2 separate regions of the Homo sapiens genome follow, and region 2 is linked to region 1. Evidence: fine-mapped expression QTL. A gene starts in region 1. The other region holds a variant in brackets. All regions are shown on one strand. Distances are from middle to middle.

Region 1 (4,509 bases):
TGGGAGGGACTGGGAGCGCCCCAGTTCTGTGTCCTGACTGGGTGGGGTGGAGGGGCTGCTCCACATCTCACAGCGTTCTCTGGCTGCAGAATCTCCAGCCAAGTCCTCCGTGCTCGTGGTGGGAATCGTCATCGGTGTCTTGCTACTCACGGCAGCGGCTGTAGGAGGAGCTCTGTTGTGGAGAAGGATGAGGAGTGGGCTGCCAGGTGGGGGGCAGCGGGAGGAAGAGCCTCTGAGAGAGGGACAGAGACCCCAAGAGAGGGGCACACAGACCTGGGAGGACAGAGACCCAGAGAGGGGGGACAGAGATCAGAGAGAGGTGGAGACAGAAACCCAGAGATGGGAGAACAGAGGTGCAGAGAGAGGGGGACGGAGACAGAGACCCAGAGACGGGGGAACAGAGACCCAGAGGGGACAGAGAGAGGTGCGGACAGAGGGAGGGGGAGACAGACCCAGAGGAGGGAGGCAAAGATGTAGAAAGAGGGGGGACGGAAAATTGGGAGAAGGGGAGACAAAGGCCCAGAAGGAAGGGGATAGAGACTGAGGAAGAGTGTGTGAGACACACACACAAATGGGGGACGCCAGTCAGACCCAGAGCGCCTCAGAGATTCTGATGACCTCTCCCTCTCTCTCTCTCCTCAGCCCCTTGGATCTCCCTTCGTGGAGACGACACCGGGGTCCTCCTGCCCACCCCAGGGGAGGCCCAGGATGCTGATTTGAAGGATGTAAATGTGATTCCAGCCACCGCCTGACCATCCGCCATTCCGACTGCTAAAAGCGAATGTAGTCAGGCCCCTTTCATGCTGTGAGACCTCCTGGAACACTGGCATCTCTGAGCCTCCAGAAGGGGTTCTGGGCCTAGTTGTCCTCCCTCTGGAGCCCCGTCCTGTGGTCTGCCTCAGTTTCCCCTCCTAATACATATGGCTGTTTTCCACCTCGATAATATAACACGAGTTTGGGCCCGAATCAGTGTGTTCTCATCATTTTTCAGGCAGGGGAGGTAAGGGAATAAGTCGGGGGACTGAATGGCGGCTGGGCCTCGGATCTCTCCTACAGGTAACATGCTGCCACAGGGGAACCTGCCAGTTTTATACATCAGGTCATGTATTTTCTTTTTCTTTTTCTTTTTTCTTTTTTTTTAGACGGAGTCTTGCTCTGTTGCTCAGTCCGGAGTCCTGTGGCGCGATCTCGGCTCACTGTAAGCTCCGCCTCCCTGGGTTCACGCCATTCTCCTGCCTCAGGCTCCCGAGTAGCTGGGACTACAGGCGCCTGCCACCATGCCTGGCTAATTTTTTGTATTTTTAGTACAGACGGGGTTTCACCATGTTAGCCAGGATGGTCTCGATCTCCTGACCTCATGATCCACCCGCCTCTGCCTCCCAAAGGGGTGGGATTACAAGTGTGAGCCACCGCGCCCGGCCTAAGGTCACTTTTTTTTTTTTTTTTTAAGACAGAGTTTTGCTCTTGTTGCTCAGACTGGAGTACAATTGCGTGATCTCAGCTCACTGCAACCTCCGCCTCCCAGGTTCAAGCAATTCTCCTGCCTCCCAAGTAGCTGGGATTACAGGCATGCACCACCACACCCGGCTAATTTTTTGTATTTAGTAGAGACGGGGTTTCACCATGTTGGTCAGGCTGGTCTGGAACTCCTGACCTCAGGTGATCCACCTGCCTCAGCTTCCCAAAGTTCTGGGATTACAGGCATTGAGCTACTGTGCTCAACCTGAGGTCATGTATTTTTAATTCATAACTTTTACAAATATTTACTGGATGACTGCCATGCCAGGCATTTTGAGGAATTCTTGGCTACTGTCTGACCACCTGAATCCTTGGAGCCGAAGAGGAGCGAGGAGCAGTGTTCACTCTTGGAGGAAATGGGATATTTCCTCCGGCCCCTTGATTCTGCTCTCCCTTTTCTTTTCTTTTCTTTTCTTTCTTTTTTTTTTTGAGACGGAGTTTCGCTCTTGTTGCCCAGGCTGGAATGCAATGGTGCGATCTCGGCTCACCACAACCTCCGCCTCCCAGGTTCAAGCAATTCTCCTGCCTCAGCCTCCCAAAGTAGCTGGGATTAAAGACATGCGCCACCACACCCGGCTAATTTTGTATGTTTAGTAGAGATGGGGTTTCTCCGTGTTGATCAGGCTGGTCTCGAACTCCCGACCTCAGGCGATCCGCCCGCCTCGGCCTCCCAAAGTTCTGGGATTACAGGCGTGAGCCACCGCGCCCGGCCTTTTTTCTTTTCTTTCGTTCTTTTTGTTTATTTTTGTTTTGTTTTGTTTTGTTTGGTATAGAAGTGTTGGAACGTACACCTCTTTCTTAAACCATCCTGACAAAGGGAAAGGGAAAAATACATTTCCCGTGAGGCGTTGTGACTAGAACAGCTGGAGGTGGACGGCAGAGTGCCGCGACGACTGCCAGGAGTTGTAGTTCTCCCCGGCCGCGTCACTGCGGTGTCGCCCACCCTTCTTCCCCGGGCAGGCCGCGGTTTCCTTTGTGGACGTGGCGAGGAGTGCCCGCGGCACCCCGTGCACTCATTGGCCCCGCCCCGTGAGACGCTCGTGCGAGCTCATTGGGCGGGGGGCGGGGCTCTGCGCTGCCAGAGGCGGGGCCTGACTGGAGAGCGGCCGAATTGGGCACATTTGCGGGAACGCAGAGCGGAGCGTGGAGAGCGGAGCGAAGCTGGATAACAGGGTAAAGGGAGTGGGTGGGGGGCCTCTGTCCAGGGAGGGCGGCTCGGGTCGAGGACCAGGGTCCGGACTGGGAGCAATGACGGGGAGCCTGCCTGACCTCTCGCTGGCCACAACTATGCCCTGCACCTTGCGTGGGATGTGCGCCACGTCTGTCTCTGTAATTCCCCCTGGCAGGTCTGGGACCCCCCTGAGACTCCGTCAGAAGATTCGGTCCTCCCCATAGGTGGCTTTACCTCTAAGCATCCCGCCCTCTTTTCCCCCATCGCCCGCCCTTTTTGAGCCCGAAAGCTTGCAGCCAACTTCCAACTCCCTGTCCTGTCCTAGGTAACCCCTCCACCCCGCCATTCTCCTATCCCGTGTCTGTCCCCATCCCTGTGACCCCTGACCCCTGGCCTTTGCCACTCCCCAGGGACCGATGATGTGGCGACCATCAGTTCTGCTGCTTCTGTTGCTACTGAGGCACGGGGCCCAGGGGAAGCCATCCCCAGACGCAGGCCCTCATGGCCAGGGGAGGGTGCACCAGGCGGCCCCCCTGAGCGACGCTCCCCATGATGACGCCCACGGGAACTTCCAGTACGACCATGAGGCTTTCCTGGGACGGGAAGTGGCCAAGGAATTCGACCAACTCACCCCAGAGGAAAGCCAGGCCCGTCTGGGGTAAGAGAGACATTCGGTTGGGGCGTGTCCAGAGGTGGGGCTTAGGAGAGAGACGCGGGGGTATCGACAGGGGTCAGAGAAATGGCGTGGACTGAACTTCATTTCTTTGTGAGAAATGAAATTCTACCTTCTATCCTTGGGAAAAAGAAATTAAGTTAAAATTGAGGCCTAAAGAGGACCTTTGAGACCGGGCGTGGTGGCTCATGCCTGTAATCCCAGCACTTTGGGAGGCCAAGGCAGGCCGATCACTTGAGGTCAGGAGTTCGAGAACAGCCTGGCCAACATGGTGAAATCCCGTCTCTACTAAAAATACAAAATTAGGCAGGCGTGGTGGTGGGCACCTGTAATCCCAGCTACTCGGGAGGCTGAGGCAGGAGAATCGCTTGAACCTGGGAGGTGGAGGTTGCAGTGAGCCAAAATTGCACCACTGCCCTCCAGTCAGGGCGACAAAGTGAGACTCCGTCTAAAAAACAACAACAACAATAAAAAAGAGGACCTTTGAGGGCAGCAAAATCTGGGTTAGATTCTGCCCCCTAAGCGCTCCTTATTCTTTTGTCCCAGACATCTCCCCTCCCCAAGCCTCAGTTTCCTGCTCTGTAAATGGCAGGGACTGGTGTGGAAAATGAGGTTTGGCCTTTAAGGAGCCCGGCCAGTGCAGGAGAGTGGCAGAGCCCTGAGTTTCAGGGTGAGCTGGGTGGAATGGAGCCCTGTCCACCCTCTCCGTCCAGGCCTGAGCGCAGGGGGGCGCGATGGGAGCAGCCGCCTTCTTCTGTGCATCCTCCTGACACTGATTGAGCCTGCAAAGGTTTATCGAGCACCTGCTATGTGCCAGGCACTGCTCTAGGTGCTGAAGTCACAACAGCTAACACATCTGTCCTCCTGAAGTTTACACTGTGGTGAGGGAAACAGCAAGAAGTCAATAAGTAGAAAGTGGATCAAATAGAGATAAATGCATCCAAGAAAGATAAAGCAAGAGAGTCAGAAAGTGTGGAGGGGAGAGGTTGTTGGTGGGGGGGAGTTGCAATTTTTATTTATTTATTTATTTATTTATTTACTTATTGAGATGGAGTCTCGCTCTGTCACCCAGGCTGGAGTGCAGTGGTGCGATCTCGGCTCACTGCAACCTCCACCTCCTGGGCTCAAGCAATTGTCCTGTCTCAGC
Region 2 (4,257 bases), 72 kb before region 1:
TAGCCCCACCCCATTCCCATTAGCCCCGCCCCTTTGGGCTGGAACCGGAGGTGTCGCTCTTCGGACCTCAAGGTTCCCCTTAACACAGAGCGCCCCGCAGTCTTCGCGGAAAGCGTTCGGGGTAGGCGATGGCTGCGACGCGTGCAGGGCCCCGCGCCCGCGAGATCTTCACCTCGCTGGAGTACGGACCGGTGCCGGAGAGCCACGCATGCGCACTGGTGAGAGTCTGCCCGGCCGGCGCTGCTCGCTGCGTTCCCCAGGCCTGGGCGCCCGGTTTTTCGCGGGGAGTCCCGTCATCCACTGCGGTAGCTCAGCCGCTCCGCCTCTCTTAGTCCCCGTGATTCCCGCCGCCCAATAGGATCGCGCCCTGTAGGACGCTCCCTTGAGCCTTGGCGGTGGCAGCCTTTTAGTCTGTTCCGGTCTTCCCCACTGGTTCTCTTGCCCCTTGATCCTGAACTCCTCGTAGTGTTTCCGCGGTTTTCCTGAACTCCTCTAGACGCTCTCGTGATTCCTCAGGGTCCCCTCAGAACCTGACGCCACCCACCAGACCCCTTAGGATTCCTGTGAGGCTCCAGTGACCCACAACCCCCATTGTCTTTCCACGACTCTTCAAAACATCCTATGGCTTCCATGGGCCTCCAGAGCACCCCAGACCTCCTGAGGGACTCCCTTCATCCCTTTGATTACCCAGAGACCTTCAGAACTTCCATGGAGCCCCCGTGATCCCATAGGACCCCTCAATACTCGTGGGGTTCATGTGACCTCATCGGAACTCTCAGGAGCCTAGAATACATCAGGACTTCCGGTTTGGGTTGGGTTTTTTTTTTGTTTTTTTTTTTGAGCCAGGGTCTCACTCTGTCGCCCAAACTGAAGTGCACTGGCGCTATCACACCACTGCAGCCTCAACCTCCTGGGCTCAAGCCATCCTCTCACCTCAGCCCCCCAAGTAACTGGGACCAGAGACGCGCGCCACCACTCTCAGCTAATATTTGTACTTTTTCTAGAGACAAGGTTTCAGCATGTTGGCCAGGCTGGTCTCGAACTCCTGGCCTCAAGTGATCCACCCACCTCGACTTCCCAAAGTGCTGGGATTACAGGCGTGAGCTACTGCACCCAGCCACATCAGGACTTCCTGTAATTACTTATGGCCCCTCACAATACCCTCACGGGGCTCCTATGATCTCTCTAGCTCTCAGAATGTCCCATAGGGTTCCCATGATTGTTCAGGAACCCCTGAAGTCCTCGTGAGGGTCCCATGATCCCCTGGGGGTCCTCAGAACCTCCCTAGGACTCCCATGACCCCTCAGAGGCCCCCAGAACCCTCGTGGGGTTCCTGCAAATGAGTAGGGCACCTCAAACTTTCTGTCGTTTCCCCAGGCACTCTCAGAATTCCTTCACGGGGCTCTCATGATCCCCCAGGGTCCCCCAGCACCCAGGCGAAAGGAGCTTAGGCTTCTTTGAGGGGGAGGGCAGGAGGCCAGAGCAATGATCCAAGTGGAAGGAACTGGATCAGAACCCTGGCACAGCCTAGAACTTGGGGAGGCCAAGACGGGCAGATCGCCTGAGCTCAGGAATTCGAGACCAGCCTGGGCAACATAGTGAAACCTCGTCTCTACTAAAATACAAAACATTGGGCCAGGCGTGGTGGCTCAGACTTGTAATCCCAGCACTTTGGGAGTCCTAGGTGGGCGGATCACCTGAGGTCAGGAGTTCGAGACCAGCCTGGCCAACATGGTGAAACCCCATCTCTACTAAAATACAAAAATTACCTGAGCGTGGTGGTGTTTGCCTGTAATCCTAGCTACTTGGGAGGCTGAGGTGGGAGAATTGCTTGAATCCAGGAGGCAGAGGTTGCAGTAAGCTGAGATTG[C/T]ACCACTGCACTCCAGCCTGGGCAACGGAGCAAGACGCTGTCTCCAAAAAAAATACAAAAATGGCTGGGCGCAGTGGTTCACACCTGTAATCCCAGCGCTTTGGGAGGCCGAGGCGGGCGGATCATGAGGTCAGGAGATCGAGACCAGCCTGGCCAAGATGGTGAAACCCATCTCTACTAAAAATACAAAAAATTAGCTGGGCGTGGTGGCAGGCACCTGTAATCCCAGCTACTTGGGAGGCTGGGGCAGGAGAATCGCTTGAACCCAGGAGGTGGAGATTGCAGTGAGCCGAGACCACGCCACTGCACTCCAGCCTGGGCAACAAGAGCAAAACTCCATCTCAAAAAAAAAAAAAAAAAAAAAAGGAAACAGAAAACAAAAGATTAGCCGAGGATGGCAGCACACACCTGTAGTCCCAGCTACCCGGGAGGCTGAGGTGGGAGGATCACCTGAGCCTGGGAGGTGCAGTGATCATACCACTGAACTCCAGCCTGGGTGACAGAATAAGACCCTGTCCCCCCTGAAAAAAAAAGAAGTTGAGGCCAGGCAAGTGGCTCACACCTGTAATCCCAGCAGTTTGGGAGACCGAGGCAGGAGGATCACTCGCACCTAGGAGTTTGAGACCAGCCTGGGCAACATGGTGAGGCCCTATCTCTATTAATATAAAAATAAAACATAAAAAGTGAAGTTGAGACTTGGACTTGAGTCCTTGCATTTCAGACCCGTGGTCTTGCCTACACCAGCAAAGTTCTCAACCGTACAGTCTCTGGGCCAGACTCAACCAACAAACATGTTTTCTTTGGCGTGAACTTTATTTTTTTTTTATGTGAAATGCTGGACAATTGATTCCATGTAAACATCCGGGAGGTCCTCTTGAAAATAAAATTCCAAAATGTGTCAACATTTGGCTCAACTTCCCTGACAAAAGTCATCTGGGACCAATAGCTCCTGTCTTTTCCATGAATCGTTAAGCTCCTCTTCTCATCCAGGCCCTCTTCTCAGGCCTCCTGGAACCCTCTGGACATTCTTTTGGAATTTTGTTTTTCTTTTGGGGGGAAGCTTTCCAACTTGCACAGAATAATTAGCATTTATTTTGAACTCCTGTTTACCCATCACTGTGCCTCAACCATCATCAACATTTATCCCAGCGCTGTTTCCTTCTGTATTTTCTTTGGAGTAATTTAAACAAATCCTGGATGTCACAGTATTTTCCTATAAATATTTGAATCCTTTCTTCTAACAGATAAGGGCTCATTTTGTTACAAAACTACCATGGTCTGTTACCACACTTAACATTAAGTCATTCTTTTTGTTTTTTGTTTGTTTGTTTGAGACAGGATCTTACTCTGTCGCCCAGGCTAGCATTCAGTAGCGTTCATAGCTCACTGCAGCCTGAAACTCCTGGACCCAAGCAATCCTCCCACCCCAGCCTCCTGACTAGCTGAGACTACAAGTGTGCATCATCATGACTGGCAAATTTTTTACTTTTATTTTTGTAGAGATGGGGTCTTGCTGTGTAGGTCCAGACTAGTCTCAAACTCCTCAGCTCAAGCAATCCTCCCGTCTCAGCGTGGGAAAGTGCAGGGATTACAGATGTGAGCTACCATGCCCGGCCAACAATCATTCTTTAATGTCATCTGATGCCCAGTTCATGTTCAAATATCCCTGACTTTCTCACAGATGTCTCTCTCCCTGTGGGCGTTTGAGTTTGGAACTTCTAAGTAACTTTTTTGCTTTAAAGAGAAAGGAGAAGCCAGGCACAGTGGCTCATGCTTGTAATCCCAGCACTTTGGGAGGCCGAGGCGAGTGGATCACCTGAGGCCAGGAGTTCGAGACCAGCCTGGCCAACATGGTAAAAACCCATCTCTACTAGAAATATATAAATTAGCTGGGCATGGTGGCGGCCGCCTGTAATCCCAGCTACTTGGGAGGCTGAGGTAGGAGAATCACGTGAACCCAGGAGGCGGAGGTTGCAGTGAGCTGAGATCGCACCATTGCACTCCAGCCTGGGAGACAAGAGCAAGACTCCATCTCAAAAAAAAAAAAGAAAGAAGGGCCAGTAAGAGAAAAATCAGGAATATGTGACATCAGAGATGCTAGGGGAGTCTGTAGAAGGAGCAAGTGAGCAGTGTGCTTTGGATTTAGCATCAGGGAAGACGTGACCAGGATGAGAAAGAAATATGGAGGAGAAGTCCGGGCGCAGTGGCTCACGCCTGTAATCTCAGCACTTTGGGAGGCCGAGGCGGGCGGATCACGAGGTCAGGAGATCAAGACCATCCTGGCTAACACAGTGAAACCCCATCTCTACTAAAAATACAAAAAAATTAGCCAGGCGTGGTGGCAGGCGCATGTAGTCCCAGCTACTCGGGAGCCTGAGGCAGGAGAA

What was found. PIP is the estimated chance that this variant, and not a neighbour inherited with it, causes the effect.
Region 2: its variant is fine-mapped to the expression of RCN3 in whole blood (TOPMed, PIP above 0.99).

What each region holds. Positions count from the first base shown.
Region 1 is chr19:49,525,368-49,529,876 of GRCh38, forward strand. RCN3 (reticulocalbin 3) reads left to right here and starts at 2,636. Exons shown (of 7, transcript NM_020650.3): 1 at 2,636-2,691; 2 at 3,100-3,347. The coding sequence starts at 3,106. FCGRT (Fc gamma receptor and transporter) reads left to right here. Exons shown (of 7, transcript NM_001136019.3): 6 at 90-206; 7 at 643-1,061. The coding sequence ends at 752. RefSeq lists an enhancer at 2,552-3,130 and a silencer at 2,594-2,713.
Region 2 is chr19:49,453,204-49,457,460 of GRCh38, forward strand. It overlaps ALDH16A1 (aldehyde dehydrogenase 16 family member A1), which reads left to right and starts at 22. Exons shown (of 17, transcript NM_153329.4): 1 at 22-218. The coding sequence starts at 129. RefSeq lists an enhancer at 615-1,574. The variant C/T (reference allele first, on the strand shown) is at 1,871.